5 separate regions of the Homo sapiens genome follow, and all the other regions are linked to region 5. Evidence: fine-mapped expression QTL. A gene starts in region 5. Each other region holds a variant in brackets. All regions are shown on one strand. Distances are from middle to middle.

What was found. PIP is the estimated chance that this variant, and not a neighbour inherited with it, causes the effect.
Region 1: its variant is fine-mapped to the expression of SEC22B in whole blood (Lepik 2017, PIP 0.95).
Region 2: its variant is fine-mapped to the expression of SEC22B in whole blood (INTERVAL, PIP above 0.99).
Region 3: its variant is fine-mapped to the expression of SEC22B in whole blood (TOPMed, PIP above 0.99).
Region 4: its variant is fine-mapped to the expression of SEC22B in whole blood (TOPMed, PIP above 0.99).

What each region holds. Positions count from the first base shown.
Region 1 is chr1:120,133,569-120,140,190 of GRCh38, forward strand. No RefSeq gene overlaps it. Among named protein-coding and RNA genes, the nearest start is that of SEC22B, 40 kb to the right of the region's middle. The variant T/TA (reference allele first, on the strand shown) is at 3,437.
Region 2 is chr1:120,097,991-120,104,612 of GRCh38, forward strand. No RefSeq gene overlaps it. Among named protein-coding and RNA genes, the nearest start is that of NOTCH2, 32 kb to the left of the region's middle. The variant G/A (reference allele first, on the strand shown) is at 2,788.
Region 3 is chr1:120,493,814-120,500,435 of GRCh38, forward strand. It overlaps the pseudogene PDE4DIPP2. Among named protein-coding and RNA genes, the nearest start is that of NBPF8, 82 kb to the left of the region's middle. The variant G/A (reference allele first, on the strand shown) is at 2,751.
Region 4 is chr1:120,941,181-120,947,802 of GRCh38, forward strand. All of the region lies in intron 2 of LINC00623 (long intergenic non-protein coding RNA 623), which reads left to right. RNVU1-4 (RNA, variant U1 small nuclear 4) reads left to right here and starts at 1,420; the gene lies at 1,420-1,583. RefSeq lists enhancers at 644-1,358, 1,107-1,416, 1,348-2,051. The variant C/T (reference allele first, on the strand shown) is at 3,210.
Region 5 is chr1:120,173,581-120,180,202 of GRCh38, forward strand. SEC22B (SEC22 homolog B, vesicle trafficking protein) reads right to left here and starts at 2,940. Exons shown (of 5, transcript NM_004892.6): 1 at 2,727-2,940. The coding sequence starts at 2,801. RefSeq lists enhancers at 2,062-2,627, 2,562-2,931, 2,628-3,193, 2,972-3,101.

The DNA.
Region 1 (6,622 bases), 40 kb before region 5:
TTTGAACAAAGATCTGAAGGCAGTGAAGGAACAAACTAATGCATATCTGGGAGAAGAGACTCTGAGGCAGAGGGAAGAGTCAAAAGTCACTGGGGCAGGAGGAGGCCTGTTATATTCAAGAAACAGTTAGGAGGCCTATATGTTCAGAATGGAGTTACAGGAAGAAAAATATCAGATGAAGTCACAGATGGAGGCCAGATGAGGTAGGGCCCAGGACTAATCAAAGACATTGGCTTTTATACTAAATGAGAAGGAGCCATGGAAACTTTTGAGTAGTGGATGACACATTTAGGTTTTCTTTTTTAAATTTTAAATACATTTTTATTTCAATAACTTTAAGGGTATAAGTGGTGTTTGGTTACATGGATGAACTGTATAGTGGTGAAGTCTGATATTTTAGTACCCCTGTCACCCTAGTAGTATACATTGTACCCAATATGCAGTTTTTTATCCCTCACCTTCCTCCCAACCTTCCCCTGTCTGAATCTCAAATGTCCATTATACCACTTTGTAAGCCTTTGTGTACCCATAACTTAACTCCCACTTATAAGTGAGAACATATGGCATTTGGTTTTCCATTCCTGAGTTATTTCACTTAAAATAATGGCCTCCAGCTCCATCCAAGTTGTGCAAGACATTATTTCATTCTTTTTTGTGGCTGAGTAGTATTCCATGGCATGTATATACCACATTTTCTTTATCCACTAATTGGTTGATGGGCTCTTAGGTTAGTTCTATACCTTTGCCATTGTCAATTGTGCTGCGATAAACATACATGTGCAGATATAATGATTTATTTTCCTTTTTGATATAATGACTTATTTTCCTTTGGGTAGATACCCAACAGTGGGATTGCTACTTTTAGTTCTTTGAGAAATCGTCATACTGTTTTCCATAGATGTTATATTAATTTACATTCCCACTAGCAGTGTATAAGTGTTCCCTTTTCACCACATCTGTGACAACATCTATTGCTTTTTGGATTTTTAACAATGGCCATTCTGGTTGGGGTAAAGTGGTATCTCATTGTGGCTTTGATTTGCATTTCCCTGATGTTCAGTGATGTTGAAATTTTTTCCATGTTTATTGGCCATTTGTGTATCTTCTTTTGAGAAGCATCTATTCATGTAAATTGCCCACTTTTTAATGGAATTATTTGTTTTTTTTTTCCTGCTGATTTGTTTGAGCTCCTTGTAGATCCTGGATATTAGTCCTTTCTTAGATGGATACTTGCAAATATCTTCTCCCATTCTGTGGGTTTTCTCTTTACTCTGATGATTATATATTTTGCCGCACAAAAGCCTTTCAGTTTAATCAGGTTCCGTTTATTTGTTTAAATTTTTGTTGCATTTGCTTTTGGGGTCTTAGTCATAATTTTTTGCCTAGGCCAAAGTCCAGAAGAATTTTTCCTATGTTTTCTTCTAGAATTGTTATGGTTTCAAGTCTTATATTTAAGTCTTTATTCCATCTTAGGGTGATTTTTGTATGTGGTGAGAGAGATGGATCCAGTTTCATTCTTCTATCCAGTGGCTCTCCAGTTTTCACAGAACCATTTACTAAATAGGGTGTCCTTTTCCCAATTTATGTTTTTGTATGCTTTGTTGAAGATCAGTTGGTTCTAAGTATCTAGCTTTACTTCCAGGTTCTCTAGTCTGTTCCACTGGTCTATGCATCTACTTTTATATCAGTACCATGCTGTTTCGATTACTATAACCTTGTAGTATAATTTGAAGTTGGGTAATGTGATGCCTCCAGATTTGTTCTTTTTGCTTAGGATTGCTTTGGCTATTTAGGCCCTTTTATGATTCCATATGAATTTTACATTTAAGTTTTTAAAGGACTGCTAAGAGTGCTGTGTTGAGAGTAGACTGGGGGTGGGGAACAAGGGTGAAAGCAGAAATGCCAGTTGGGAGGCCATTGCAATAATTCAGATGAGGAATAATAGTGACTTGATCCAGAGTAATACAGAATGCAGTGAAAAGTGATGCAATTCAGAGTATATTTTGACAGTGAAGCTAGTATTATAATCTGCCATCTTTACATGCCATGATGTCATAAAACATGCTTCTATTTTGGTGATTTAGGTTGTTCCTGTTTGCACTATTATAGGTAATATTTTCATTAACATTCCCACTCACACTTTTTGCCTGTCTTATTTCCTTACATAAATTCCCAGGAATTGGATCACTGAGTTGAAGATGTGATCATCCTTATGACTCTTGCTACAAGTTGTCATATTACTTAGTAGGTTCCACCCATAGTACCTTAGGGATCTTTAATTTGAAATGCTCCAGAATTCCTCCCCCATCCCCAGGATCTCTAACCCTCTCTCCCACTATGGTTTTCTTCTTTTTCTCTTTCTCCTCTCTCTCTTTTTGGGGAGCTTATAAAAGGGAAGGGTAACAAAAATGGACAAAAGTTAGGGCCGGCCACAGGGAGAGGTAAGAAAAGATACAGAGGAATTTCTTCATTTTTTTTCTGTCTTACAGCCCTGAGAAAGTCCCAGCTGCTTCCCTTAGTTGGATGAAAATCTTCTTCTGTAAGAATCAACAAGCTAACAATACTGCTTACTTAGAGACCTTTTTGTCTTCTGCGGAGATATCAATGGACTTTACAATTTCAATTATCTTTCATAATATTCCCTGGTGTTAGAACAAACTGCCTCCTCTGAACAAACATTCCTCTCACCAGGGTGGGAAGTTTACCAAACTTTGTGGCTCCTTTATTCCCCTCCTCCATCAGGTTGGTCCCCCTTTCAAATGACCCATCCCCCATCACCACAACTCAAAAATGTACCTGCTCAGTCCTCCTTATCCAATTTCATCCTAGGTTGGAAAGAAAATATTTTAATTGTTTCTTAGAAGTGAGGGTTTTTAATGAATTTTAGAATCAACTTGTCAATTTCTGCTGCTCTTAAAATGTATATGGAAATGCATGGGACTCATAAAAGCCAAAACAATGAAGAACAAAGTTGGTGGATTCACACTTCCCAATTTCAAAACTTACAACAAAACTACAGTAACAAAGACAGTGTGTTACTGACAGAAGGATAAACATACAGATCAATGGAACAGAATTGAGAATCACAAATAAACCCTAACAGTTACAATCAATTGATTTTCAACGAAAGAGCCAAGACAATTCAATGGGGGAAAAAAAATGGTCTTTTCAACAAGTGGTGCTGGGCAACTGGATATCCACATGCAAAAGAATTAATTTGGACCCCTAAGATTGTACACAATAATTAACTCAAAGTGAATCATAGGCCTAAATGTAGAAGCTAAAATATAAAACTTTTAGAAGAAAACTAACTCTTTTGACCTGAGTTAAGCAGTAAATCTTTGTGACTTTGAGTTAGGCAGTAATTTCTTTGATGCAACATCAAGAGCACAAATAATAAAAGAGAAAAAAGTTGATAAGTTGAACTTAATCAAAA[T/TA]AAAAAAACTTCTGTGCTTCAAAGGACACCAACAAGTGAAAGAACAGCCCCACAGAATCAGAGAGCATATTTGCAAATTATACTATCTGTTAAGGGACTAGAATATAAAAAACACAAATCAATAAGAAATGACAAGTGATCTAAGTTGGGAATGGGCAAAGGATTACAAGATATTTTTCAAGAGAAAAATATGCAAATAAGCACATGAAAAGTCACTAGGAAAATATAAATCAAAAGCACAATGAGATATCAATTTTCACCCACTAGAATGGCTATAATAATATAGGCAGAAAATAATAATTGTTGGTAAGGATGTGGAGAAATTGGAAAGCTCATACACTGCTAGTGGGAAAGTAAAATGGTGTAGCCACATTGGAAAAGTTTGACAGTCCCTCTAAATGCTAAAAATAGAGTTACCATATGACCCAGCAATTCTTTTATCTTGGGAATCTACCCAAAAGCAATGAAAACATATTTCCATACAAAAACTTGTGCACAAATGTTCACAGAAACTTTACTCACAATAACCAAAAAGTAGAAACAACCCATTTGTCATCAACTGATGAACAGATAAACAAAATGTGAAATATCCATACAATGAAATATTATTTGGCAATAAAAAGGAATGAGGTACAGATAGATGCCACAATATAGATGAACCTCAAAAACATTCTGCTAAGTGAAGGAAGCCAGTCACAAAAGACCACATATTATATGATCTCATTTATATAAAATGTCCAGAATAGGCAAATCCATAGAAACAGAAAGCAGATTAGTGTTTGTCTAGGACTAGAGGGAATAAAGGGGTGGGGTATGGGAGAATAGAATTGATGAGTGACTGCTAATGAATATAAGGTTTCTTTTGGAGATGATGAAAATATTCTAAAATTAATTATGGTGACGGGTGCACTGCTAAATATACTGAAAACCGTTGAATTGTACACTTTAAATGCGAATTTTATAGAATACAAATTATATCTCAATAAAACTGTTTTTAAAAAGTGGCTTCTTGTTCACTCTTGAAAAAAGACACCTGATTGTTTGGTTCAGCACCCTCAAAAAATTTGTTCATGTAATGCATGAAGGAGCATGCTATGGGATTGGCCTAAGAAGTTGCTAGTAATAAAATCTAGAGGTTGTGAAGGCCTGGGGAAGAGAAGGAAGGAGTAAGGGATGGAGAAGGGAAATAAGGAATAAGTGAAGGGATGCACCCAGAAATGAAGGCACAATCATCTCACTGTTGAAAAACCAAGGGCAAAACAGAAAGGAAATGGGGGAGTGGAATTTGCAGATATCTTTACTGCCAACTGTGTAGAACTGGGGCTGAGGTGGTTCAAAGCAAAGCTACAAAGTAAATATTAAGAGGATAAAAACTTCACTGATTTGTTGAATATATAAGGCTTTGTACAACTCACAGGGATTATTCGTTAAAAGTATACAAGCACTGTAGTCAGTTGGAAAAAGAATTATGATTCCTGTTGCCAAATTTGTATCAAAGCAAAATTATAATGTGATCCTACAATGAGCCAGAAAGAAACACAAAAAGTTTACTCCCCCCACCTACAAACAGAAACTGCTCCTTTATGTAACCTGAAGTTCATGTATATAGTCTTATTTGTACAGATCCTTGCATCTCAAGATGGATTAGTGTTTTTCAACATGGCAACTTTTAATTTTGTTTATTTATTTATTTTTTAATTTTAATTTTTTTTTTTTTGAGATGGAGTTTCACTCTTGTTGCCCAGGCTGGAGTGCAATGGCTCGATCTCGGCTCACTGCAACCTCTGCCTCCCGGGTTCGAGCAATTCTCCTGCCTCAGCTTCCCAAGTAGCTGGGATTACAGGGGCATGCCACCACGCCCAGTTAATTTTGTATTTTTCAGAGATGGGGTTTCACCATGTTGGTCAGGCTGGTCTTGAACTCCTAACCTCAAGTGATCCACCCGCCTCAGCCTCCCAAAGTGCTGGGATTATAGGCGTGAGCCACCACGCCCGACCTATTTATTTATTTTAAAAAATAATTTTAAATTTTATTTTAGACTCAGGAGTACATGTGCAGGTTTGTTACATGGGTATATGGCATAACACTGAGGTTTGGGGTGTGAATGATCCCCTCACCTAGATAATGAGCATAGTGACCAATAGGTAAGTATTTCAAGCTTTGTCCCCCTTCCTCCTTCCTGCCTCTAGTAGTCCCCAGTACCTATTGTTGTCATCTTTATGTCCATGAGTACCCAATGCTTAACTCCCACTTGTGAGATCTTACTAACACATTTGGTTTTCTGTTTCTGCCTTAATTCACTCAGGATAATGACCTCTAGCTCCATCCATGTTGCTACAAAGGATATGATTTCACTCATTTTTTTGACTGTGTATTATACCATGCTATGTATATACCCTATTTTAAAAAATCCAATCCACTGTTGATGAACACCTAGATTGATTCCATGTCTTTGCTATTGTGAATAGCGCTGTGATGAACATGTGAGTGCATGTGTCTTTTTGGTAGAATGGTTTATTTTCCTTTAGATATATACTCAGTAATGAAGATTGCTGGGTTGAATGGTAATTTTGTTTTAAGTTCTTTGAGAAATCACCAAACTACTTTTCCACAGTAGCTGAACTAATTTACATTCACACCGACAATAGATAAGCATTCCCTTTTCTTGGTAGCCTCGCCAGCAACTGTGGCTTTTGACTATTTGTTGTTTTTTTTTTGAGACAGAGTCTTGCTCTATCACCCAGACTCGAGTGCAATGGTGCGATCTTGGCTCAATGTAACCTCTGCCACCCGGGTTCAAGAAATTCTCCTGCCTCAGCCTCCTGAGTAGCTGGGATTACAGGCATGTGCCACCATACCCGGCTAATTTTTGTATTTTTAGCAGAAACAGGGTTCCACCATGTTGGCCAAGTTGGTCTCAGACTCCTGACCTTAGGTGATCCATCCTCCTCGGCCTCCCAAAGTGCTGGGATTACAGGTGTGAGGCACTGAGCCCGGCCTGACTTTTTAATAATAGCCATTCTGATTGGTGTGAGATGGTATCTCACCGTGGTTTTGATTTGCATTTCTCTAATGATTAGTGATGTTGAGTATTTTTCCACGTTTGTTGTCTGTTTGTATGACTTCTTTTGAAAAGTATCTGTTCATGTCCTTTTCCAACTCTTTAAATGTATTCTATTTATTTAT
Region 2 (6,622 bases), 76 kb before region 5:
AACAACTCTGAGTCCTAATGTTGACAATCCCTGCTTCCCAAAGCTGTGCACTGCTCCCTGGTCCATTCTTTGAATACTATTGCCAGAATAGTATCGTCTCCATATTATGACTCAATTTTTACTCTTTTTGTCTTAAGGCATTTTACTCTCTTGTGTTGTGCAGTTATAATCCAAGTATGAAATCCAATTAACAGAATTTTATCATAGATGTGCTAGAAGCTACAAGGATTTGGTTTGTTTCTTTCTTAGTTTTCAGTTAGCCAATCTTTTCTGAAAGAAATTGAAGCCACCCTCCTCTTAGAAAAAAAATCCTTCTTTCTTCATTTTATTTTCATGGGCTGCTTCTAGGAGTATATTGAATTCTGCCTTCCATATTTCTAATCAGGCTTCACAGTTTCTTCCTTCTCTGTCCCTTTCTCTCTGTTCCTATTTCTGCCATATCAACTAAGGCTTTCCTTAGCTCTTGCTTTACCTATAGCAATACTACCTACTTTGTCTTCTTACTTACTACACCAGTTTATATTGGCTCTGATCGTTATTATCTATGGGGGCTGAGGCAGGTTGCTTTCACTCTGATCCTCAGTTTCCTCACCTGTAAAGTGGCCATATTAGAGTATGGACCTTGTAAGGGTGGTATAAATGTAAGCAAATATCCTTGGTTCTCCTGAGCTATAAATCCAAATGTGATCATGTTAATTAAAAATCTTAATAGTTCTTATCCTTCCCCAAATATTTATGAGAAATTCATGAAATGGATTAACTCAATAAATATTGAGCACTCTGTGTGAGTCACTGATGTGGGCTCTGGGGACACAACAATAAACAGACAGACCTGGACACTGCTTTCTTGGCATTTGCTTTTTGGGATAGGAAAAACGATGATTAAAAAAGAAGAAAAAGAAACAAAAATGACAAAACATGAGATGATGATAAGTGCTATGGAAAGAAAGTCGGGGTAGGCAGAGGGTAGGAAGGCAGAGGGGTTGCTCGGTTTTACATAAGGTGGTCAGGGAGGGCCTCATCGAGTAGGTGTTTTTGTACAAAGACATTTGGGTGTCATTGGTGGACAGATCTTACCTGTGTTCTTAAGCCAGTGTTGTCATCATGTGTATTGTTATAGTTAGCCAGACACCAAGATGCTGGCACTGACAGCACCACTGTGAGCTAAAAGTCCACAAACGGTGTCAGCGTGGAGCCCTGCACAGTTACCCTAGCCAATAATGCTTTTGAAAAACAGGAAGTAAGAGAGTTGACTTTTTCAGCATTAATGCTCAAGGTAAAGTGTTATGACTGAATTAACTGAAATCAACTACTATTTCCTTAACACAACTTGGATAAAAACCTTTTTCTGCAATCACAGCTGGCACTGTGGTGCCGGTTTTATGGGAAATTGAGGGCTATGATAGCCCCTGTGATGTCTGTCAGCATCCTCTTTCAAAGTGGGAAAAGAAAAGCTCTCTTCCTTAATATAACACTGAGTTACCAGTTACTGGGCGATAGGCCCTAGAGCATTAAAGAGTTTCATGGCTCTTTCCATGACTCAGAGGCCCTTCTTTGTTTTCTTCTGGGAAGACACATGCAAGGAAGCTGGGTTAGGCCCTTCCCTGTGACAGTCAGACTTACCATGACCTTCCAGGTCTAAAGCCCAGTCTTACCATTACAAACTCCTTCCTCAACCAACGGTGCTCTCTCCAGGGGCCCCACCATTCCTGCCAGCACTCTGCCTACCTCTGGAACTGTCTCCAGACATGCCCATGAATGCTGAAGACCCTACTGAGGCAAATATTTCCATTTTGCCCCCAGCAAACTTCTCAGCCTCCTTATAAATCAATGGATGCCAATCATTGCTTAAAGGGAAGAGACGTTGTCTAATTCTGCATCACAGCCATATCTGTCTGAATTCTGACCCATCTGGGACATTGTATTGCACAAGAAATAGAAAAATAATTCATGAAGTTCCTAGCATAATTCTTCTGTTTAGTAGGTATTCAAAAATTGGTAACTATTGTAATTACTTACGTAGTAGTTTAATGGGCAATTGTAAACATATTGTTTATAATTTTTGTTTTTTTCAAAATGTTTTACAAAATCATGTGTTATATAATAAGAAGCAAATTCTTTCAAAAAAAATAAAACACACACACACACACCAAACTCTTGACACATAGCTGTTTTCTTCCCCTCCTTTTCATCTAAACTTCTCAGAAAAGTGTCTTGCACTCACTATTTCCACTTCCTCAACTTGCTTCTATCTAGCTTCTGCCCCGATCATTCCTCTAAAAATTGATCTCACTGAAGCCACCAGCTGCTTTTGAATGTTCTTCCCTCAGGAGTATGTTGGTGGGTCTGGGAAGGGAAGGCACCCTCAGGTAAATAATAACCCAGAGCAGAGTGGATTGAGTAGAAGGGAGAGGACAAGGATACAAGAGGTGAGGCAATGTCATCCAAGTTGAAAGAATGGTGCAGAACCAAAGTTGGATCCAAACACTCACCTTGTCCAAGAGCCAGGTATTCCAGTTAGAAGTCTGCTCACCTGAGCAGAAGAGAGAGTCCAGAAACAAGCCAACTCCAAACAGGTAATAAACTGAAAAACCAAAGTAGTCCCAGAAGGAAGAGTGCAAGGAGTTGGAAGGCCAAGAGGAATTCCACATTCAGCAACTTACCAGCTGCATTTGGCTGGGCCTTCCTGGGAATATGTGATGAAACGTCCAGATCTACAATGCTATCTCTTTCAGAAATGAGAGATGGGCTCCCAGGGCACTCCTATACTGGATATGTCAACACAGT[G/A]CCTGCCACACCCAACTTCCTCTTTGAGATGAAAGTGCCCCACCCACAGCCCCCTGCTTTGAGAAGCAGAGGTAGGTTGTTCTTTGCCCAGGGATGGCTCCTGATTGGACCAATGATTGGCCCTTGACATTAGGGGCTGCCTTCCCAAAAACCAGGGCTTGAATGGAAAAGGTAAGTTTGATCAATCAGATTCTCTCCTTCTGGGATTTGAATTGGGAAACATGGATAGAAAGAAGCAGTTAGCCATGGGAGCTGAAGCTGAAAGGATGGCATACAATGGAGTGGAGCCATGGAGGATTATAGCAAACCAAAACTATGAGGAAGCAGAACCATGTGATAAGAAGGCAGAATTTATGAATAAGCAGCAATTCTGAGGTAGAGAAAATACATGAAAAGTAAACAGAATTTTTTAGTTGGAATAAGACAGCAAGAAGCAAACCTGCAAAGAGTCGCAAGAAATGAGAAGTGGTGCACAATTGTCATTAAGATCCTATCATCTGGCTCAACTAAGAGCCAGTTTCAGATCACCCGGATTTACTAAGGCTCCTGTGCTCTTCATCAGATTTACCCCAGCTTTCCAGGTTTCCATGCTGGTATTTCTTGGGCTCCTACTATGAGCTAGGCACAGTTCTAGGTGTTTGGGATCTAAGGGCAAATGAAACAGGAAAATACTTAAACCCCTCATAACTTGCGGCAGGGTCTCTGTTTCAAAGGGCCAAGTTAAAATAACTACTCTTGCCTTCACCATTTCCCATGGTCCAGTTGGTGTCATTATGTTGTCATTATGAGTCTACACCCACTTTGGCATGCAGTTCATATATATCACCTCCACTGCTAGGGTGGGTAACTGGAGAATCAGGAAAAGAGAAAATAAAAAACAGAAGTTGGGAGATGGGACATGAAGGAAGTCAGATGATGTATGATAATGGCAGCAGAGTGGCTGAATGCCCAGGCTTTAAATTAACTTGCATTCAAAATTTTGCTCTATCACTTATTCATTAAGCGGCTTTTTTGGCAGGTCAGTTTTCTCAGCTGTGAGCTAGAGATAAAATAGCATTCTCCTCATTGCATTTTTTGAGAATTAAGTGAGAAAATATATGCAGAGCATTTAGCATAGTACTTGGCCCATAGTAAATGCTTGATAAATGGTAACTATTTTTGCTGATGCTATTATTATCAGCAATCCTCTAGTTTTCCCATTAGTTGGATAGAATGAATGGGCTGGCGGGGAATTAGATGGCATCCTATGTCAAACCTCTCTGAAGGCTGATGCCAGCCATAACATAGTAGGCTCATTAAAGCTCCTTCTAGTTGGTGCATTCCTTCCCGGGTACTGTCTAGCTGCAGGAATATCAATAATACCAAGAAGAGGGCCAGGCACGGTGGCTCACGCCTGTAATCCCAGCACTTTGGGAGGCCGAGGCGGGCGGATCATGAGGTCAGGAGATCGAGACCATCCTGGCTAACACAGTGAAACCCCGTCTCTACTAAAAATACAAAAAATTAGCCAGCCATGGTGGCGGGCGCCTGTAGTCCCAGCTACTCGGGAGGCTGAGGCAGGAGAATGGCGTGAACCCGGGAGGCGGAGCTTGCAGTGAGTCAAGAGATCGCGCCACTGCACTCCAGCCTGGGCCAAAGTGCGAGACTCCGTCTCAAAAAATAAAAAAATAAAAAACAATAATAATAAAACCAAGAAGAGGTGTAAAAAAAACACTAAGGACAAAAACCGTTGTATGCAAAAAAAACAGTTCTGGAGGGCAGGCAATAATAATTAGTGAAAGCAAAGTGTGTAGCAGTGATATTAGCCAGAGCAGTCAGTTGTGTGGGGGAGGCAAAAAAGCACATTTATTTCTTAAGCACTACTTTTGTCACCTGTCTAGGGGTGGTGGGTATGTGGATGTAGACCTGATAGGCCCAAACTGAGGCATAGCTGAGGGCTGTGGTTGGAAAGCAGTGCTTTGAGAGACCATGAAAGTAGAAGCCCTCTTTTACCTATCAGGGTATAAATGACTGGAATGGGTGGAGGAGCAATGCAGGGAGGGAAGAGGGCAGAGTCAGGGAAGAGGTCAAGAGGGGCAGACCTCCCAATGACTTGGGCGGCTGAGGTGGGAGGATAACCTGAGCCCATGAGTTTGAGTTCAGCCTGGGCAACATAGCAAGACCCTGTCTCTATAACAATCAATCAATCAATCAATCCAGGAAGCGGGCAGACAACAAATAGAAGTCCCAAAACTGGAGTTTCAGATGCGAGTGTGGATCAGAAGGAGTCACCGCGGCTCTAGAGGAACCCTGAGGTATCTTTGCTTTGGGTCCAGGTGCTTTTGTGGTAGTGTACCAGACCATATCACCTCAGAGAGGGCCAGTGGCTGTGCTGAGGCTGCATTCTGGCCTTCCTAGCAGGGATGAGCACTGCCTTACTCCTATAAAGACCTTCGTGGCATTTAACATCAATCCATATTGCCCCAAGAGGCCCTGTATCAGGATTAAGACCATGCATAAATGTCTAAAATACATCATTTGAGCAGAATGATTGTGAAATACTCAAGCCATAGTCTTCCAGAGTGAGTCTCTCTGTTACCTCTTGTACTCAGGCTTTCAGGATAGAGAATCTGGTCTGTGATTCTGAGTGCTGGGCACACAGCTGATGGAGCACCCAAGCACAGATAAGGTGAGCTGCCTTGCATAGCATGAGCTGAGCTTTCAGGCTATGGCAGACTGAAGTCCCTATCACACATTGGACCCTCTAGGGCTTGAAAACATGCTTGACCACAGGCCCTTCCCCTTTCCACGCAGGGATAATGAAGTGTGGCATAAAGCTTCTCCTGGGTCAGGGTGGCCCACTCCACAGTGTTGGCAGCACCAGTCTCAACAGTGTGATGCTGAATGAAGCTAGGTTCCAGCTGTGTAGAGCTGGCATGCAGGTGCAGAGGACACACTGTGGAGCTGAGTTGCTTGCATTCATTTCTATTCTTAGTAAATTTTTTACCTGTATGGCTTTATAGGAGTTACTTTATCACTCCATGTTTCAGTTTCCTCATCCGCAAAACAGCAATAATAATAGCATATAGCTCATAGGGTTATCATGAGTATTAAATTAGTTAATATAGGCAAGCCCTTTCAGCAGTGCCTGGCACATCGTCAGTGCTTGCTTGTGCTGTACTGGAGCAGAGGTGCAGCGAGTCTTGACTTGCCAAACATAGTGTCAACCTCAGCACATCAGGAAACTTCCTTCTCTATTTTAGGAGGTCATTACTAGGGCAGTTGCACAGAAAAAGACAAAATGGTGTTAGACATCTCTTGAAAATGTCTAGGTAACCTCAGTGACCAGGGTGTCTCTCACTCCAGAATCACAGATAACTGGCTACACTGAACTTGGTTCAGAAATGTCACACATTTCTGTGCTGTTTTGAAGGTGCTGATGTTTCAGGTAACTCAGAACTGTTGGGGCCAGAGTATTGTATGAAGCATAGCTAGTCAGGTTGCATGTGGATGTTTCAGGATATATTAGGACATTTTCCAAGAAGAGCAAAAAGCATCCCCTTGAAAGTCCTGCAGGATACTGATCATGCTGCTGCCATAGGTCAAGAGGCATTGTGTTCTCTGCAAACTCTCTGTCATCCAAATGCAACGATGGAAGGCAGACAAGGTGCTAGGCACTCAGAAGATCTAATTTTATGGTCCTTCTGAGCTGGCCCAGGAGAGAGGGAACCAGACAGTATTAGGATCCCAGTAATCCTAGCAGAGGGCCCAGTCATCTGCTTTTCTTCCTCACAAAGTTCTCCACTGCCTTCTTGGGAGAGATAGGGCCCCAGTGGATTTCAAGGCCTATGAATTC
Region 3 (6,622 bases), 320 kb after region 5:
GCAGTCTGCACAAGGAAATGACATGGCTGCCAGGCTTCTCACCCCTTCCACATGTGGGGGCCATACACCTGCAAATCCTTCAGTTTCTATCCATCCCATTGAGTTGACTCTGCCCACAGATGGTCATGTGCCTGCATGACTATGGTAGATAATAAGCTACCAAAGGCTGCTAGGCAATGCCACATGTTTCTGTGGGGCTGAGGGGAAATATCCAGTCAGCTACATCTGGAACAGAGCAGAACTCACAGTGAAAATAGGAGATAGAGAAGAAAGGGCCTGGCTGCTATACATGGAAGAGGAAGTCTCAGCTGTTGAGAGATGCAAAGCATGAAAAAAACAAAAATGGTGGGAGAAGGAGTTAACATCAAAGGAAGAAAGGGCACAGGGAAAGAGTGCACCTAAAGCTTCAGGTGTGATTACCTCTGTGCCTTGGGCTTCAAGGCCAGGGAAGCTGCACGCTGATCTCACAAGAGACACTATCTTTTTGACCAGCAGCTTGCCCTCCGCAATCTGCTGTCTTAGGGCACTGTAGTCATCAATGTGGCCAATGACATGGCGGCCATGCTTATTGGCAAAGGAGCCATCAGTAGCATCACCCTCTAGCTTGGGAGGGGTCTTCATTACTGGAGAAGTATCCAAACCCAAGCCTGAAAAAGAAAATGACAACACAACTGAATCTTCTGTTATTCATAATGATATCCTCAGTTTGCTCCAACTAAAAAAGAGGTAGGGAACAAGAAAAGGACGAGGCCGGGAACAAGAAAGGAAGCCTGGGAATGTACAAGGGTGGGGCAAAGTCCATAGAGATCTTCTGGCTTCTATATTTTTATAATCTTTCTTACATTATCTCTTAATGATAAATTTGCCAGGAGACAATTTTTTCCTTATTGGCAAATGAAATAGGATGAATCATAATAAATAATAAGTTTCTGAGTAGAGAAGACACAGACAAGGAAGTCAAGCTGGATACAGACAGCATTTTCAAGAATAGAGAGATTATGGTGCAATGAAGCAAAAACAGCAGTAGGAAAACTACAGGAAGATGAACAATGGCAAGAAAGGCAGCCACAGAAGGTGCAGGGAGTAGGGCTAAAGGCCTTGGGGCATGCAGAGAAAACTCTCTAAATACAGATAATATGTTTAGAGACAACAAAAGGTTGTTTGCATTAATCACTTTCCATCATCAGTCCCTGGGCCCTTTAGTTGCCATATTTACCATTTGCTCTGTTGATTATGGGCGTTTCTGAGCCAGGAGTAGAGGAAGCAGAGCTGGGGAAGACCAGAGCTGGGGAATTCATACCAACATCCCGGACTGGAGGGGACACAGCTGAATCTAGGGGGTAAAGGCAACCACAGTTTTCAGGAGCCCTGGAACACACTGCACATGAAGCACATGCACACCTAGCTGTCCCCACTGAGACCTAAGGTGGCAGGACTCTCCTCTTACAGAATTATCCATACCCCACAAGCCAAAGCAAAAGCAAAAGCCTATGAGTCACTGAGTTCAGAATGTTTCCATTCTTCAGAACAAAAAGATATTCCTGTAATTGAGGGGTGTTCCATGAGAACGTAACTTCTAGTTTGAAAAATTATTAGGTGTATTTTTATAAACCGAGTCTTAAGTATAATTTGTGTGTGGTATCTAATATGATGCCCTGTAACTAAATGTAATATGTATAAATATACATAGTACAGATTAAAATCTAGAATCAAAGAATCAAGGAATGAATGGATTCATGGGGGACTCAACATTCTAGTCATCATTCTGATGAGGTAATACTGAAAAAAATTGACTTGTATGAGAAGAACGGAGACAGAAGGCTTGGTGGGTTAACATTGTCTTGCTGGAGACTAAAAAGCAACCCTATGGTGGAGGAATTGGAAAATATCACAAAGAAGGTAGAAAAGGTCCTGCTCAGGCAAGTGTGGCCCAGTGCCTGCTTTCCAGCTCAGGCCTCCGGGGTGCTAGAGAAAGAGGGGCAGGGACTGCATCAGTGGGGCTGAGTCTTGGCTGCTGTATGGGAAGCCAGTGAGAGAAGAAGGCCTGGTTAGAAGGAAGAGTTGGAGACATAACTGAACACCACAACCATCAGGGCAGCCCAGAGGAGGGCAAGATGTCCAACTAATGTAAGCTGAGCAGTTCCTGGTGGTCAGGCGGTTTGCTTGGTGGACCACATGTGTTTTTTTATTGAATTGCCAAAACAGCATAATCATGTTATTGTCACCTTCATTTGACAAATAAGGTTACTGTCAGATAAATGAGAATCTACAAGAACCACAGAAAAACAAAGATTAACATGACCCAGAAATAGCTGGCAGGAGAGTTTGAAAGCTCAGCTTTAGAGAAACTGAACAGAAGTGGTTCCTGATTTGAATAAAATTGAAGGTATGGCCATGGAGGTGAGTGGAGATGGTGTACTAAACGGTGTATCAAAAGGAGAAAAGGACAGAGGAAGTAGAAATTGAATGATTTAAGAGACTAGGGGGACACCATTGACATTTCAATGAAAACTGGGAGAAGTGAGATTGATAGAGGATATTGAGAAGAGAAGGGGGACCTGGTCAAACACGCCTATCTGAAAAGGCAGGCAAGGGGTGGGGTAGAGAAAGCGAATGATGGCCACCCGAAATAAATCACCCACCATCCAGGACTTCCCCAGAGCCCTGTTTCCTTAGGGGCAGGAACATTTTACCACACACTGAGTTCCCCACCTGTGAGGGAAAGGGGGACTAGAGAATCTGGGAAGGTC[G/A]GCAATACTGAGACAGGGCACAATGAACTGGAAGGAACACAGACTGAAAATCACAACATCTGGTTCTGATTCTGGCTTTGTCTATAACTTCTCTAAACCCCTGCTTGTCTGTTAATATCTCAGGACCTAAGTTTTCTTATGTGAAATACAGAGATAGCAAAACCTGCTTTACTTCAGATGAAATTATATATGTGAAAACACTTGGCTAAAACTAAAGCACCAAGCAAATCCAAGAAAAAGATATGAACATATACAGCTGCTAATTATTGAGTAATTCTTAGTGTGCCAAGCACTTGTAAATGATTTCATTTAATGCTCAAAATCATATAAGGTACATATGATCATTATCCTCATCTTAAATATAAGGAAACTAAAGCTTAAACCTCTGAGACTTTAGACACCTTGCCCAAATCAAACGACCTCTAAGTGGTAAACTCAGAATCTGGAGCCCAGTCTGACCTAAATCCCACGCTTTCACTCAGGCTGCTAGACTAGAGCATCTCTGATTTCAACCTGACCCTAAGGAGCATGGACCAGGCAGATTACACCTTCTGCCGCAGAACTTCCTGGTGATCTCCCCACTGGCCAAGGGCTTTCTAAGTCCCTTTTCCTTCCTACCTTGGAGGAGCAGCTGCTTGTTTCCAGGGTCAGTGCTGGCTGGGAAGTTCTGGTTAATGGAGGAGGGGCTGAGGCTGGCTTTGCCAGCACCGCTCTCCAGCTGCTGTTGCAGCTGCAGTCGCAGACAATTGTTCCCCTGAATGCTCTGCTCCAGCTGCCCTCTCAGAGCTCGTACCTCTGCCACCAGGTGGCTCAGGTCACTGCTCAAAGGGATTTGGTGACAGGCATCCAGGCTGTAAGCTGAGAGAGAAGGAGTCTGGTAACATTCACCCAAGTATTTCCAAGCACTTGTCAGAACCCTCCTCTGTGACATTCTTTTCTGCCAAGGACCCCACTATCATCTGAGTCTCATGCAACCCATCTGTGATGGAGGTGTCACCATTTCTGTGTGTGGCCTGGGGATGGCACTGAGCTGGCACACATCCAGTCTGAAACTTCCCTGCGGCTTAAGTTACACACATGCACCTATAGAGCATTTGATTGGCAGATGAAGATAAGTCCATATTTCATCTCCATAGTAACCTTAGTCCTGTAGGCTAAAGTATAGGATACTCCAAGGTAGAAGGTCAGCACTGAGCTAGAGAAGGGTAGGGGATGAGGAAGAAAGAGATTTCATAGTCCTCACTCTCAAAAATGAAAGAGAAGGAGGAGGTCTTTTGGTAGCATGTGAGAATGTGAGTTGGGCACCTTAGACGAGGGATTATAACTGAGTTTTTCAATTTCTCTCTCTCTCTTTCTCTCTCTCTCTATATATGTGTGTGTGTGTGTACATATATATACACCTACATATAGTGTGTTTATATATGTGTGTTTATATACATACTATATATAGGTGTATATATGTACACATATACATGTACACATATACATGTACATATATATGTACACACATATACATGTACATATATATGTACACACATATACATGTACATATATATGTACACACATATACATGTACATATATATGTACACACATATACATGTACATATATATGTACACACATATACATGTACATATATATGTACACACATATACATGTACATATATATGTACACACATATACATGTACATATATATGTACACACATATACATGTACATATGTATGTACACACATATACATGTACATATGTATGTACACACATATACATGTACATATGTATGTACACACATATACATGTACATATGTATGTACACACATATACATGTACATATGTATGTACACACATATACATGTACATATGTATGTACACACATATACATGTACATATGTATGTACACACATATACATGTACATATGTATGTACACACATATACATGTACATATGTATGTACACACATATACATGTACATATGTATGTACACACATATACATGTACATATGTATGTACACACATATACATGTACATATGTATGTACACACATATACATGTACATATGTATGTACACACATATACATGTACATATATATGTACACACATATACATGTACATATATATGACATGTACACACATATATATACATACACATATATATAAATATATATATGTATGTATATTTACCTCCATTCACCACATGGCTATTTCTTTGTACTGGGGATGAAGAGATCTAAGAAATATTCTACGAGGCTACAATCCCTTATCTGAAAACCTTAAGGCCAAATGTATTTCGAAAGGTAAAATTTGTTTTAGTTTTTAGCAAGGCAACAGGGTGCATATATCATATATAACATGTACCCAGTTGCATGTGAGCCACAATCCTTTATCAAACATATAACTATTTCCGCAATGAGCTATGTGAATATTCTAAATAGATAAATAAAGACTTATGAATATCCTCATGTCAGATCATCTAGATTTTGTCACTAAATGAGTATTTGAAAAATTTAATTTGGAAATCTTACTGGATTTTGAAATTACAGATAAGAGATTATGGAGCTTTAGTGGTTGTAGCTTTGAAATGAGTCCTAAAAGGCAGGGAGAAAAGCATGAAAGGAAAGGGAGCTCAGGATGAACCAATTTTAGGGACTTTGGTAAATAATCTACTCTTGAATTTTGCCCAAAGTTTTATGATGTTCCTCTCTCTCTCAACCCAACTTCTCACTAAATTTTGCTTATTTTTTAAGAGATGTTTTAAAATCTATCTATACCCTTTCATCTTCCCAATAGCACCTTATATTAGACTGTCATCTCTTAATGTGCCAGAATATCACTAGACCCATCCAATACGTTTCCCAGATTCTAATGTCTCCCAATTCCAGGACATCCCCTAAGACTTAGCATCCTAAAGTTCTGTTTTCATCATATGCTTATCTTCTTTGAAAAAGAACAGACTTAGTTTCATTATCTACTATACAGAATGTCAACTTTTACCCTGACCTGTGAGCTTTCAAGATTTGGTGACTCTGCTCCACCATCCTGACTTCTCACTCCAACCTCAAGCTTCTCCTGTGGTCAGGCTGGTCCCACTGACCCAACACTCACCATGACTGTGTACTTAAATTATTCTCCCAGCCTGGTGAGCCCCTTCTATTTCTTCAGGTTCCAGTTCACCTTCTCTTTAGAAAATCAGGAAACTAAATCAGGATTTATGATAATTCGAATCTAACTTCCACTGCCCTTCACTCTTTGTTTAGCCTTCTGGAGGGACATAAAATACATGAGTTCTTTTTCACCTGACACTTCTTCAAATATCCGAAGCCAGTTCTCATGTCCTCAAGATCTTTTGAAAGCCTACATTTCTTTAGTTTCTTTGACTAGTTGGAGATTTCTGGTCCACACCATTGTGCGCCCTGTCTTCATTATGTTCCCTAGTGTGTCAACGCCCTTTTCAAAGATGGTGCCCCTTAATCTAACAATATTTTAGACATGGTCTCCACAGGCGAACATCACACTTACACTACTGTAGTTCCAGTTTGAGCTGGCATTTCTAGCAACCTTTGTCCTACACCTTACTTGTGTGAACATGTTTCTACCAAACCCCAAACCCTCATGTCCATGAATGGCTGCCTGTCCTATATTTCTACCCTCAACCTATATTTCTACCACTGATATTTTTAATCGAGCTCAGGATTTTGCTTTTTATCTTTGCTAAATTTCACGACATTGATGTCGTCCTCTGTTCCAGCCTGCTGTGACTTATTCACATTATGTTTTGAATACCCTTCTCCATTTAAAGAATGAAGAAATATATCAAAATTCTCAAATATTAGATTATTATTTCAGCAGGCAGCAAAGTCTTCAATAAATGTCCTTA
Region 4 (6,622 bases), 770 kb after region 5:
CAAGAACTGCTTACAAGAAAGGAGCACTCAGGGGACCAAACCTCTGCCAGAGCCAGCGGGGAAGTGACTTATGCCTCTCTCTTCTTTCCCTCCTGTCCCCGCCCCTCATCTCCCGCAATGAAGCGGGTACTTAATCTGTGTCCTGTGGAGGTCCCCTTTGGCAGCCAGCTGGAAGCCCGTGCACCCTCCTTCAAATAATGGCTTTCAATGAGCAGACTAGAACATTTAGGATTGCAAAGGAAACCGATTCCTTTCAAACCTGGTTATCTTTGTGATGTGGCACTGTGTGCATATCTTCGTTAAAACGCATTGAAGGCCACTGCACTCCACCCTGGGCGACAAGAGGTGACTGTGTCTCAAAAAAACCAAAAACACTCCCCCCTCACCCCAAAGCATTAGACATCAAGGCTGGCAGGGAAGTCTGTTCTCTTGAAAGTTCAATATCAATTCAATACTTTAAATTCACTGTAGTTTCAATCCATTGGTATGGAAAGTGTTTTGAATTATTGTACTGATTTTTTTCTATCCTCTTTCTGATACGCATGCTAATCATATGGACCTTGGACGTCTATCTTCCTGAACTTTTCTCTCCTGTTTTTACATTCTTATTTTGGTTTGTGGGAAATATTCTTGATATTATCTTCAACTTAATTTTTGTTCTTGCTTCTACTATTTTAGTTTAATTTCCAAGTATTTTGATATTGAACTTTCAAGAGAACAGACATCCCTGCCAGCCTTGACGTCTAATGCTTTGGGGTGAGGGGGGAGTGTTTTTGGTTTTTTCGAGACACAGTCACCTCCTGTCGCCCAGGGTGGAGTGCAGTGGCCTTCAATGCGTTTTAACGAAGATATGCACACAGTGCCACATCACAAAGATAACCAAGTTTGAAAGGAATCGGTTTCCTTTGTAATCCTAAACGTTCTAGTCTGCTCATTGAAAGCCATTATTTGAAGAAGGGTGCACGGGCTTCCAGCTGGCCGCCAAATGGGACTTCCACAGGACACAGATTAAATACTCGCTTCATTGCGGGAGACGAGGGGCGGGGACAGGAGAGAAAGAAGGGACAGGCATAAGTCACTTCTCCCGCCGGCTCCGACAGCTGGTTGCTCCGCTGAGGGGCGTTGGGTGAGGCGGAAGAGCAGACGGGGATCCAGAAGGCGTTGTCGGTGACATCACGGAGAGGGCGATTTCTATGTAGATGAGGCAGCGCAGGGGCTGCTGCTTCGCCACCTGCTGCTTCGCCACGAAAGAGTTCCCGTGCCGTGGGAGTAAGTCTGGGACCTCTGGTCGGACCGGAGAGTCGCAGCTGTGTGTTAGGGCTAGGATGGCTCCTGGATGCGCGTGACGCAAGTGACCTTGCGTGTAAAGGGTGAGGCATATGAGGCTGCGGCGGGGCGGAGGGGCGTGAGCTTATACTTATGTTTATCTGGCAGAAGAAATGTTATGATCACGAAGGTGGTTTTTCCAGAGCAAGGCTTAGCAGTTTTACTGTGGATGTGCTGACCCCTGTGATTTCCCCGAATGTGGGAATCTTGATTACATAATTTGTGGCAGTGGGGAACTGTGTCTGTGTTTTTCCCTGGGTTGTTGTCGTTTTAAAAGTGGATTTTGTTTGCTGTGGAAGCATATACAAGGCGTTAGTATAAACTAATAAACAGGTCTTTGTTCCCATCTGTAACTTACTTTCAAAGTAAAGATTTTGCCAGGTAGTGGTTGGTTCTCACGCTTGTAATCTCAGTAGTCTGTGAGATGCATTGATAACTTTATGTTAATACCGCTCGAGCTCTGGAGTTTGATGTCAGTGTGGTCAAATATGGTGGACCCGTCTCTACTAATCTCTTAACTTTTTTTTTTGTTCTATAGAAATAAAACTAAGCTTTTCTTTTCCCTACGGGAGCCCATTGTAAACATTTATTAACAGCAAACAGTCCACTGGAGTGCATGGCGGGATCCCGGCTTACTGCAACCTCTGCCTCCTGCCTTCAAGCTATTCTCCTGCCTCAGCCAGAGAATACTCGATCTCCTAAGTAACTGAGATTACAAGCGCAGGCCACTAAAAAATTAGGCCCGGCTAATTTTTTGAATTTTTGGTAGAGACAGGGTTTTACCATGTTGGCCAGGCTGGTCTTAAACTCCTGACCTCAAGTTATCCGCCCGCCTCGGCCACCCAAAATGTTGGGATTACAGGCCTGAGCCACCGCGCCTGGCCTGTTTACAGACTTTACAGACAGATTTTGTTTACAAGCTTTACACGCACGGTTCAGTTGCAGTTAGTGTATATTATGCTGGGCCCAAGACAAATGTCTTTTTTTTTTTTTCCCAGTGTGGCCCAAGGAACCCAAAATTTAGACAACCCTGCTCTAGAGGGTTTGATTCATGTTTCCACTGGGTTATGCTTATTGCCTGTAATTCCATTTGATATTTTCCAAATCTGATTTTTTGAAAAGCGTTTTCCTGAAGCACCCTAAAGCTTTCCTAATAATATGGGAACTTAAACCAGATTGGATGTAACAAAACCCAGCTGGGATCCTGCAACTTCTAACCTTAATGTTAGATCAAGAAGCAAAACACCCACCAGTCCAAGGGTCAGGGAAGATGAAGATCATGCCTGAGCTGTAACAACGCCCTTCCCAGTATACAAAAGCGTGTAACAGCCACTTGAATTCTATCTTCCAAGTGTCTCCTGTTGCCCAGGCTAACCTAGAGCTATCTAAAGATGGCAAATCTGGGAAATGTGCATTCAGCTTGGCAAAACTGATACATTACAAATCCACCACAGTCCACTTCTTCTCAAAGTGGCATCAATGTGCACCTTCCTCCTCCTCCTTCTCTTTTCCTCCTCTTCCTCATCCTCTTCTTTCTCTTCTTCTTCCTCCTTTTTCCTCCTTGTAAAGCCATACTTAAGGTTCAAATAAAGACAATAGGAAAATCATACTTTTTCTCATTCAGTGAAAATATGCCAACCCTTTCCCCAACAGGATAAAGTCTTTTATTTGTCTTTGAATGATGTTCACTCCTTTTTTAGCTAGATCACATTCCATATTTGCTATCCTGTAACCTAAATATTGAGATTTCTAAAAGTTAACTATTAATGAATATGATAGCGAGGATGATGGAAGATGAGAATTCTCAAGAAAAGTATTGGTTAATATATAACCAAATGTATTCATCTCAAAATAATGAAGAAATACTCCTAACTATTACAAGT[C/T]CTCATTTCTGCAACTGTCACTGGCCCTAGCTGGTATTTGTAACTATCTTCACATCTTGCTCTCACAGCCATTTCCTTTGGGCCTGGGCCAGTGGACGTGAGCGTGGGAAAGACCAGAACCCGCGGTGCTCCCCACCGCACTATCCTCGGGTCTCCAGAGGTGGGATACACCGGGCAGGGGCCTTTGCTGGATTCTAAACCGGCTCTGGGGATACAAGAACAGCTGCCTTTGAGAAACAGTTCAAGTCTCTATATTCCAGACTTCCTAGTAGGACTAAACGCTTAATGTTCATCCAGGAATTCATGGTTCTCCTAAAACCCTGCGGTGGAATGCCTTCCTTCACTGAGCATTTATTGGGCACCTACTAGGTGCTAGGGTGGCTCTGGGCGAAGGGCTGCAGCCTGTGCAAACTCCAGGTCCCTTTCCTGTGGATCCCACCTCTGAGGGCCCGAGGGGGACGCAGTGAGGACACCACGGGTTCTGGTCCTTCCCACGCGCGCGTCCGCTGGCCCAGGCCTGGCGGAAATGACTGTGAGCGCAAGGTGTGAGCGGGGCTAAGAATGGGAAAGCGAGTGGCTTTCGCCGGAGAAGCTGCAGTTGTCACCTGTAGAGGGGCCAGCGACTTTTGAGAGGGTGAAGAGCAGGCGGGGGAAGCAGTGAAGAGCAGACGGTGAGGAGCAGGTGGCCCTTTGGCCGTTGGAGTCCCCCAGCTGACTCTGCCCGGGTAGAACGTCCAAAGTGCCCAAAGACTCGACTCTTGGCTTCATTGTCTCCCGTATTCTGGGTTTCTGGAGTGCGCGGGATTGGACAGGCATCAAATATATGAGATTATCTGCAGCCAGAGGTTAAAAAGCCATTTCTGGTATCAGCAAATGAGTTTAAGACACAAGCCATTAGAGTCTCTGTGGCGCAATCGGTTAGCGCGTTTGACTGTTAACTGAAAGGTTGGTGGTGCAAGCCCATCCAGGGATGGCACCTTTTGCTTAGGCAAGATTCACAGTTTCTGTTTAAAGACTTTAATCCTGGGAATCCTCCGGACCTCTATTAGCTTTGAATCAGATGCCAAAATATGCTGCGTGAAGGCTCAAGTTCCATGGAAGTTCCTAAAAACAGGAATATTTCAGCAAAAGTAATTTTTCAATAGAGCCTGAGCCTGGGGCTTCAGAGCTTACGCCAGAGCCACTGCACCTATTTCATCACCTCTTGAAGCTGGGTTTTTACAATTGCACATTCCTGGAAATCCAAAACTCCCAATAATTGAAAACAAGAAAACCCCAGTCTTCACTTGTAGTGAAGCCTCAATTTCTGGGTTGAAATCTTGGTTCATTCATGACGTGACTTTTAAAACGTTACTGGATTTTCTGTACCTCAATTTCTTCGTCTATAAAAAAGAGCAGCCGGGCACGGTGGCTCACGCCTGTAATCCCAGCACTTTGAGAGGCCCAGGCAGGTGGATCACCTGAGGTCAGGAGTTCGAGACCAGCCTGGCCAGCGTGGTGAAACTCCGTCTTTAATAAAAATATAAAAATTAGTCAGGCATGGTGGCGGGCGCCTGTACTCCCAGCTACTTGGGAAGCTGAGGCAGGAGAATCACTTGAACCCGGGAGGCAGAGGTTGCAGTGAGCCGAGATCACGCCATTGCACTCCAGCCTGGGCAAAAGAACGAGACTCCTTCTCAAAAAATAAAAATAAATAAAAAATAAAAAAGAAAGAAAGAAAGAAATTTTTCCTGGCACATTTCTATATGTTCCATTCTGGATGACTTGCTCTTCAGGCTTATCCCACAGCTGTTATCATAATATCTCTCTTTACTGCACCATCTTGGGATTTCCATCGCCTCTCTCTTGTTAGATCCCCTGCTTCATGGATCTCAAGGGGGTTCATTCCTCACTCACTTCTTCCTTTTGATGATGCATATCCTCCAAAACCTCCTATAAAGTGGTTACCTTAGAAATAAACTTTTTGAGACACTGCATGTCTGAAAATGTCTTTTATACCCATAAAATTAATTGATATTTTACTAGATAGAGATACAAAAAGATAGGTGGAAATAATTTCTCTCTGAGATTTTTGAAGGCACTGCTTTTTTTGTGTGTGACAGAGTCTCGCCTCGCTCTGTCGCCCAGGCTGGAGTGCGGTGGTGGGATCTTGGCTCACTTTCAATCTCCACCTCCCAGGTTCAAGCGATTCTCCTGCCTCAGCCTCCCCAGTAGCTGGGACTACAGGTGCCTGCCACCATGTCCGGCTAATTTTTTTATTTTTAGTAGAGATGGGGTTTCACCATGTTGGCCAAGCTGGTTTTGAGAGCGACCACTCCTCATATTGTCTTACACTTAATTTCTTGTTTGCTGAAAAAGTGGAGGTTGAAAGAATGGGCAGAAGTGAAAATCACGCTCAGACAACTGGGTGCCACATTTCGGGCCTGGTTGTTAAAATTCAACCGCTGACCTCACCGATTGTGCTGTCTATAAATTCCAGACATTGTATAAAAAAGCATTATGAAATTCCCTTTTCTGTCCTGTTTCATTCTGATTACCAGTACATGCAGCCCCCAGTCACGTACCCCTTGCTTGCTCAGTTGATCATGACCCCCCCAACACAGCCCCTTTAGAGTTGTGGGCCCTTAAAAGGGACAAGAATTACTTATTTGGGGAGCTCGGTTTCTAGGATGTGAGTCTACCGATGGTCCCAGCTGAAAAAAGCTCTTACATTCCACAATCGGGTGTCTGAGGGATTTTGTCTATGACTCCTGCTACAGTTTCAAACTCCTGACCTCAAGTGATCCGCCTCCCTTGGCTTTGCAAAGTGCTGGGATTACAGGCCTGAGCCATGGCTCCCGGCCCTTGTTGTTTACTGTTTTCCATAGTCATTTCTGAGAAAGAAAAAGGTAAGCCTTTTCTGCTCTGAGCTAGAGCTGGTCTGACAAACACCTAGGCCATGGTGTTCTATGGTTAAAACGAAAAATTTCACAACACCAATATCAGACAAAGTTACCCTCTCACTAAACTGAAAGAAATACTATTTCACAATCATATTTGAACATAAAAAGAACACTGTTCAAACCATAATATGATCAAACATCCCAGCTACTAATAGTGACGGTTAATGATTTTATTTTTTATTTTTTTGTGATGGAGTCTTGCTCTGTCACCAGGCTGGAGTGCAGTGGCACAATCTCAGCTCACTGCAACCTCTGCCTCCTGGGTTCAAGCAATTCTCCTGCCTCAACCTTCCGAGTAGCTGAGACTACAGGCACCTGCCACCACACCCAGCTAATTTTTGTATTTTTAGTAGAGACTGGGTTTCACCATATTGGCCAGGCTGGTCTGGAACTCCTGACCTTGTGATCCACCCCCGCCCCGCTCAGCTTCCCAAAGTGTTGGGATTATAGGCGTGAGCCACTGCACCAGGC
Region 5 (6,622 bases):
TTGTACAGGCACCTAGTAAATACCTAAAATATGATATCTATTATCAGTGTAAATACTGAAAGTACACTGATAAGAAAACAAAAACATACAAAAATGAAAATACATTGAATTATCTGGCCTGGACAATTAAGGTGATTAAATATAAAACTGTTTGGTTGAGATATCTGTTTATTAAAAAGTTATTCCTGGACTCCTAAGAGGTAAGACATCATTAAAAGGCCTTAGAACAAGGCAGTAAAGTACAGTGGTTAGGCACTAAAGTACAGTGGTTATTAAGTTTTTGTCTGAGTCGACAAAAACTTAATAAAAACCACTGGGTCTCAATTGGGGTGATTTTGCCCCCATGAGACATTTAGCAATGTCTAGAAATATTTTTGTCGTCATACAAACAAACAAAGTGGGGAAGGGTAGTGGTACTACTGGCATCTAGAGGGTAGAGGCCAGGAATATTGCTGGACCTCCTACACAATATACAGAACAGTCCCCAAGAACAAATAATTATCCATCCCCAAATGTCAACAGTGCCAAGGGGAAAAACCCTGATGAAAAATTTCATTATGCCACTCATTAGCTGTGAATTTAGGCAAGTGATCTATCCTCTCTAAGCCTCAGAGCTTCCTTATCTATTATTGGAGATTTTAATAGTACCTGTTCTAATATGGTAGTATGAGGATTAAATAAAAAAATGAACTTAATAGGCTTAGCACAGTGTTTGGTATGTAGTAGGCGCTTTTATAAATGTTCTGTATACTATTAAAATAGTAAAAGTAAGCCTAAGATTCAGATCTTTACAGACATTAAAAGTTTAGGCAAACTTTATTATTCAAAGTCAAAATTCCTAAAGGAAAATACTATGGCACTACAATCACAAAAATATTTGTGTGTAAAATTTCTTTCCTTGTCAATTAAACAAAGCATCCCATCTTGATAAACCAATATGAAACCAATACCAAATTTATAATTAAAAAACAATAAATCAATTAATTTTTCAATAAAGTATCATGGCAGAGAGTAGGGGCCACTAATATTAAGTAGACTTTCAAGTTCACTTTGTATTCTTTGCTAACACTGGAATTCAATGCAATAATTTAAAAATTGACCAGATTCCATCCCCCCTACCCCCAACACACAGCCACCCACTGTAGGAAAACTATTTTTTAGTCAAACTACACATCCTTCAAGGATATTCCCCTGCACTATCTACTTTGTTCAAATCATATTCCTAGGTTCATTTGAACAATTACACTCCTTCTGCAGGATGGTCCTAGAGTATTCCTGAAAAACATTTCACATTAGCAAATCGGGGTATGTTAAATTGTTCACGGTTTATTTCAAAGATTAGACTTTGTTTTTATGTAATGAATAGAATATATTTCACTTAGCATGACCTGCAACTTTATTATCTGTATCACCACTCTCCTAAAAGTGAAAGTAACTATATTTCCAAATCAAACCTAAAAAGGCATATAACCAAATAGAATAATAGTTCCTTACTACTGGATCCTACTGTTACCTTAGTGTCATACCTTCTGGGAAGACTTTCCTGATTTCCTAAAACCAACTTAGATATATTTTCCATGTTCAAGCACAAAACCCTCTTCCTTCTCCTTAGCAGTTAAACTACATTTTAATAGTTTGTTGGTTATCTGATTTTTCCACTAGACTGTAAGCTCCACAAAGGTAGAGACTGTGTACTCTAACTCCCTGCATTAACACTATGCCTGGCACATTTGATGTGCTCAGTAAAAATTTTTTGCATTAATATATGAATGAAAAGTCCAACAGAAGAAATGTGCAAACTATTTTTTCAATATCTCATCTTTTTTTAAGGCTCAAGGTTTTACTTAGACTGTATGGAAAAGTAAAATAAAATTGATCACTTTAAACAAATTATATAAATTCCATTCTCAGCTTTGTCTTCAGAACCTCCCAAGCTTGCTCCAGAAACTTGTCTTACTTCAGAAATTTCCACTGTGTTTCTAAAACACAAAACATCTTTCTTTTAAGACATCTGGAGTTAGTGCTGTTTTTAATCAATTCAGTATACTTTTGAGCACCTACTAGCATAAAGCAGCTATTGTAAAAGGTATGGATAACAAAGAGATGATTAAGACCCGTCGTTTGCCCGCTAGGAAACTCAAGTTATTGAAAGACAAAGAAAAAAATAAGTTACAATGTATTGCAGGAATGTGGTACGGCGTATTGGAGAAGGTGGGAACTGGGGATAATCCTGAAAGAATGTGATGTACTGAAATTTAACAGGTGCTTTTATGTGGCAATATTACCTCACCCACTTTCAAAAGATGTCAGCAAGCTAGGTCAAGGATCAGGTGCCACGTTATAGACTTGAAGAACTTGGCTGATTTTTTCCCAGGATTTATCCATCAGCAGTCCTATTAGCAGCAGAAAATTAGAAATCCTGAATTTTAACAAAGTCCCTAAAGAGTCAAAGAACACTGGGTGATCACAATCAACCAAAGCTACCACTTCTCCAGAGCGTTTTTCTAAAGAGAAACAGCTAACACAAAAAACTTAACTCCTCCTTCAGGAAAGATTTCCTCTTCGCCGGTAGTCTCTCCTACACCAAAAGATAAAAGCGCACTTCAGAGAGGTCGGGAGTGCCCGGGAAGTCACAAAGGTCTCCCGGTCCTAGGAAGGAATCCGATGCTGAGGGCAAAGCGCGCTGACAGAGACTTGGGGTCGCGGGTCGTGAGTAAGCAGCTCACCTGTTCGTCCTCCTGCATCGAGGCGGCCAGCGGGAGCCCGTCCGCCACTCGGGCGATCATTGTTAGCAACACCATCTTCACAAACTACAGGGATCCAACACTGGCCCGGAAGGCCCTTGGCGCCGTCCTCACTTCCTCCGCCGCGACAACAGTTATACCCTATGTCTCAGTTACCGGAGATCCAGCTGCTTGCGTCTCCGCTTCCCGCTGAGGTGGCCGGAAACAGCGCAAGAGCTTTCCACTACCGGTCCCCAGAATTGGCTTCCCTCAGAGAACCACAACTATCAGAACACTGGTTCCGCGATCTGCCTTCCACCTTCTTAACTTCCAAGGTCTGGCTGGGTTTTCTGAATTTGAGGCTTCGAATAAGCCTCGCCCTTTGAGCGGCCATTGCACCCAAGCTGAATCAGAATTTTCTAGTTCCTGAAACTAAGTCTTGGGAGAGAGCTGGGAAGGAGGGTGGGAGTTAATGGGTAATCCCCATTAACCACTAACCGTTAACCATGAAGGGTATGTAAAAAAAGGAAAACCCTGAAAATTAGGCTATTTTCATATTTATTTTTTTCTGTTTTCTATGTCATATATTCTATAAAATGTTCTATATTTATATATTTCTAGACAAAGATTTTTGTCTATTTTTGCTTGTTTGTTTATGCGGTATCCCCACCAGGCTCCTTAAACAGTTTATGGTAAGAAGTCAATAAATATGTGTTGTATGTGTGAATAAATGAACAAGTACAGGACATCTTGTACCACCTAGGTCAGTCACCTACAAAAAGCTAGGATCAGGCCGGGCGCGGTGGCTCACGCCTGTAATCCAAGCACTATGGGAGGCCGAGGCGGGCGGATCACGAGGTCAGGAGATCGAGACCATCCTGGCTAACATGGTGAAACCCCGTCTCTACTAAAAAAACACAAAAAAATTAGCCGGGCGCGGTGGCGGACGCCTGTGGTCCCAGCTACTCACTCGGGAGGCTGAGGCAGAATGGCGTGAACCCGGGAGGCGGAGCTTGCAGTGAACCGAGGTTGCGTCACTGTACTCCAGCTTGGGCAACAGAGCGACACTCTGTCTCAAAAAAAAAAAATAAATAAATAAATAAATAAAATAAAAACTAGGATCTCTGATATATCTAGGTGTTCCCATCTCTTTGTTTTTTGGTGTCCCCATCTCTAAAGTGGGGATATGATCGGCCTTTCAGGGTTTTAATGAATATTAGATGAGAAAATCTAGGTGCAAGGCTTTCAAAAGCTAAAAAAAGAATTATACAAATGCTTTTATTTATCATTGCTTAATAATGACTACTCTTTACTAAGTGCTTACAGTTAGTTCTCGCATTAATAGAAACACTGTTAAGTATGTTCTAGATATTAGTTAAGCAACCCAGTAAGCTTGTTTAGTATTATATCTCCACTTTGTAGTTGAGAGGAAAGCCTCAGAGAGCTAGCAGTGATGGGAACAGGATTTGAGCTCAGGTTCAACTTCAAATCCTGATGTGATTCTGTCTTAACTTGTACCCATTAATTAAAGAGCTCAGGCTTTTGTTACCTTTTATATTGGCCTTCAGGATTAGAAGAAAACCAATATTATTTTTGTGTGGCATTTTCTTTATTAAAAAGATTCTTATTTCAATAGCTTTTGGGTTACAAGTGGGTTTTTGTTACATAGATGAATTATATAGTGGTGAAAGCTGAGATTTTAGTGCACCCATCACCTGAGTTGCGTACATTTTACTTAATAAGTAGTTTTTTAACCCTAGGTCCCTTCCCACCCTCCGCCTTCTAAGTCTCTAAAGTCCATTATATCACTCTGTATACCTTTGTGTACTCATAGCTTAGCTCACACTTAAGTGAGAACATACGGTTTTTGGTTTTCCACTCCTGAGTTACTTCACTTAGAATAATGGCCTCCAGCTCCATCCAAGTTACTGCAAAAGACATTATTTCACTCCTTTTTATGGCTGGGTAGTATTCCATGGTGTGTGTGTGTGTGTGTGTGTGTGTGTGTATCACATTTTCTTTATCCACTCATTAGTTGACAGGCACTTAGGTTGGTTCCACATCTTTGCAATTGTGAATTATGCTGCTAAGAAAAGTAATATTATTTAATGATAGACTTTTGAGACCAAAACCCAATAAGACCTAGTGATTGACTCCACATGAAAGATGAAGGACTACAATAAATAAGACAAAAAAAATTGTGCTATTAACAGAGACAGAAAGTGGAATGGAAGTGAATCCTTGTGTATATGGGAGTCTAAGTTGGTAGAATCATAGTACCTTACATTTAAAATAGCCCATAGATATAAGTTGTTCTAATTTCCCTTCCTTCCACTCAACAAGGACATGCCTTCTCCACAGCCTCAAATGATGGTCATTTGAGTAATGGGGAATTAATGCTACAAATATTTTAACTAAGGATACAGACTGCCATGTTGATTAGAGAAGCAGAGAGAGAAGAATGCAGGTGTGTGCCGAGAAGCAAATTCGGAGCAAGAATCCACATCTTTTTTCAGTTCCTGACTCTAGGCTCCTCCCAAGGCCCATACACATTCCTGCCATTGGGTTCTATCAAACACTATTGCTTCTTTATAACAAATTCCCTCTTTATCCTGCTTAGGCTACTTTGAGTTAGTTTGTTACTTAAAAACCAAAACACACACACACACACACACACACACACACACGCAAACTAATAAAAGCATGGAGTCACCCTGGAGCAATTATTTCTTGGAACAACAACATTCATACTCACACCTCTTACTTTTATCCTTTGTAAACACACTAGATGACTCTGGCACCCTTCGAACACATTGATTCCAGGAAAAGGATAGTGATCTTAGGCTGCTAATAATTTCAGCCATCAGGAGAAAACTAGAGTTGTCTTGAAACTGCCCACTATTCAGACCTTGGGAGCTCTGGCATCTGAATTCCTTTTCCTTCTGACTTGATCAGCTTCATCTCATTCACATCCAAGTGTTGTCTTTGAGCTGCTGCCCTTTGATTCTTGGAGCAATACAGTACTGTGTAATAATGGTTAACACTGTGATCAGTAAGTACATGGAAGGTTCTCAACTATTTTACATTTAATTAAACAAGAGTATCAACAAACATTTGTACCGAACTTTAAAATTTATAAAGCCCACATATGTCCTTTGCCCTAAATCTGACAACCACCTCTGAAATGGATAAAATTCTTGGAGTTTGTAAATGTTGTACTAGGAAAAAAAAAAAAAGTAAACATAAGCCTTGAACGTCATAGTTACAGCTGCCAGCAAATTCTTGAAACTTATCAAAGAAATCGTGAAATGCACATATCTAAACCAACTTATATTAAGCTGCCTAAACAGGATAAGACTTTCCATTACAGCAGTCACACAGTTGCAGAAATTTTACAAGTGAGATCAAACGAAGCAATAGTTAAAGGTTTGTGTCCATTCATTCTTAAACAATTCTATCGAGTGCCTAATTCTATACCAGACACTAAGCTAAGTAATGAGGACGAATAAAGAATAGTCCCAGCAACTTGTGGCCCGTATCTACCCCCAGACCAAACACTGTCACTTAGGAGGTCTGCAAGTAAACTGCAGCTCCTGTTTGAATTACATGATTATATACATGGAAAAAACATTTCTTCTGAGAAACTGTGCTCCTGGAAGGCAAAAGAACAGATAGCCACTGTATCTGGACCAATATCTATCGATCTGGACTGTATGCATCAGTATGGCTGTACCAGCTATTAAAATACTGGAACATTTTCTTACAGATTAGTAAAAAAGCTATTGCCCTGAGCATCCCCTTCTTGAGCCCCTGCTACCCCAACAACATGCAAACGCTTAAGATTCCTGCTCCCCACAGTTCTGCCAGATTCCATTGTCTTTGGCGGTTTTCCAAGTTAG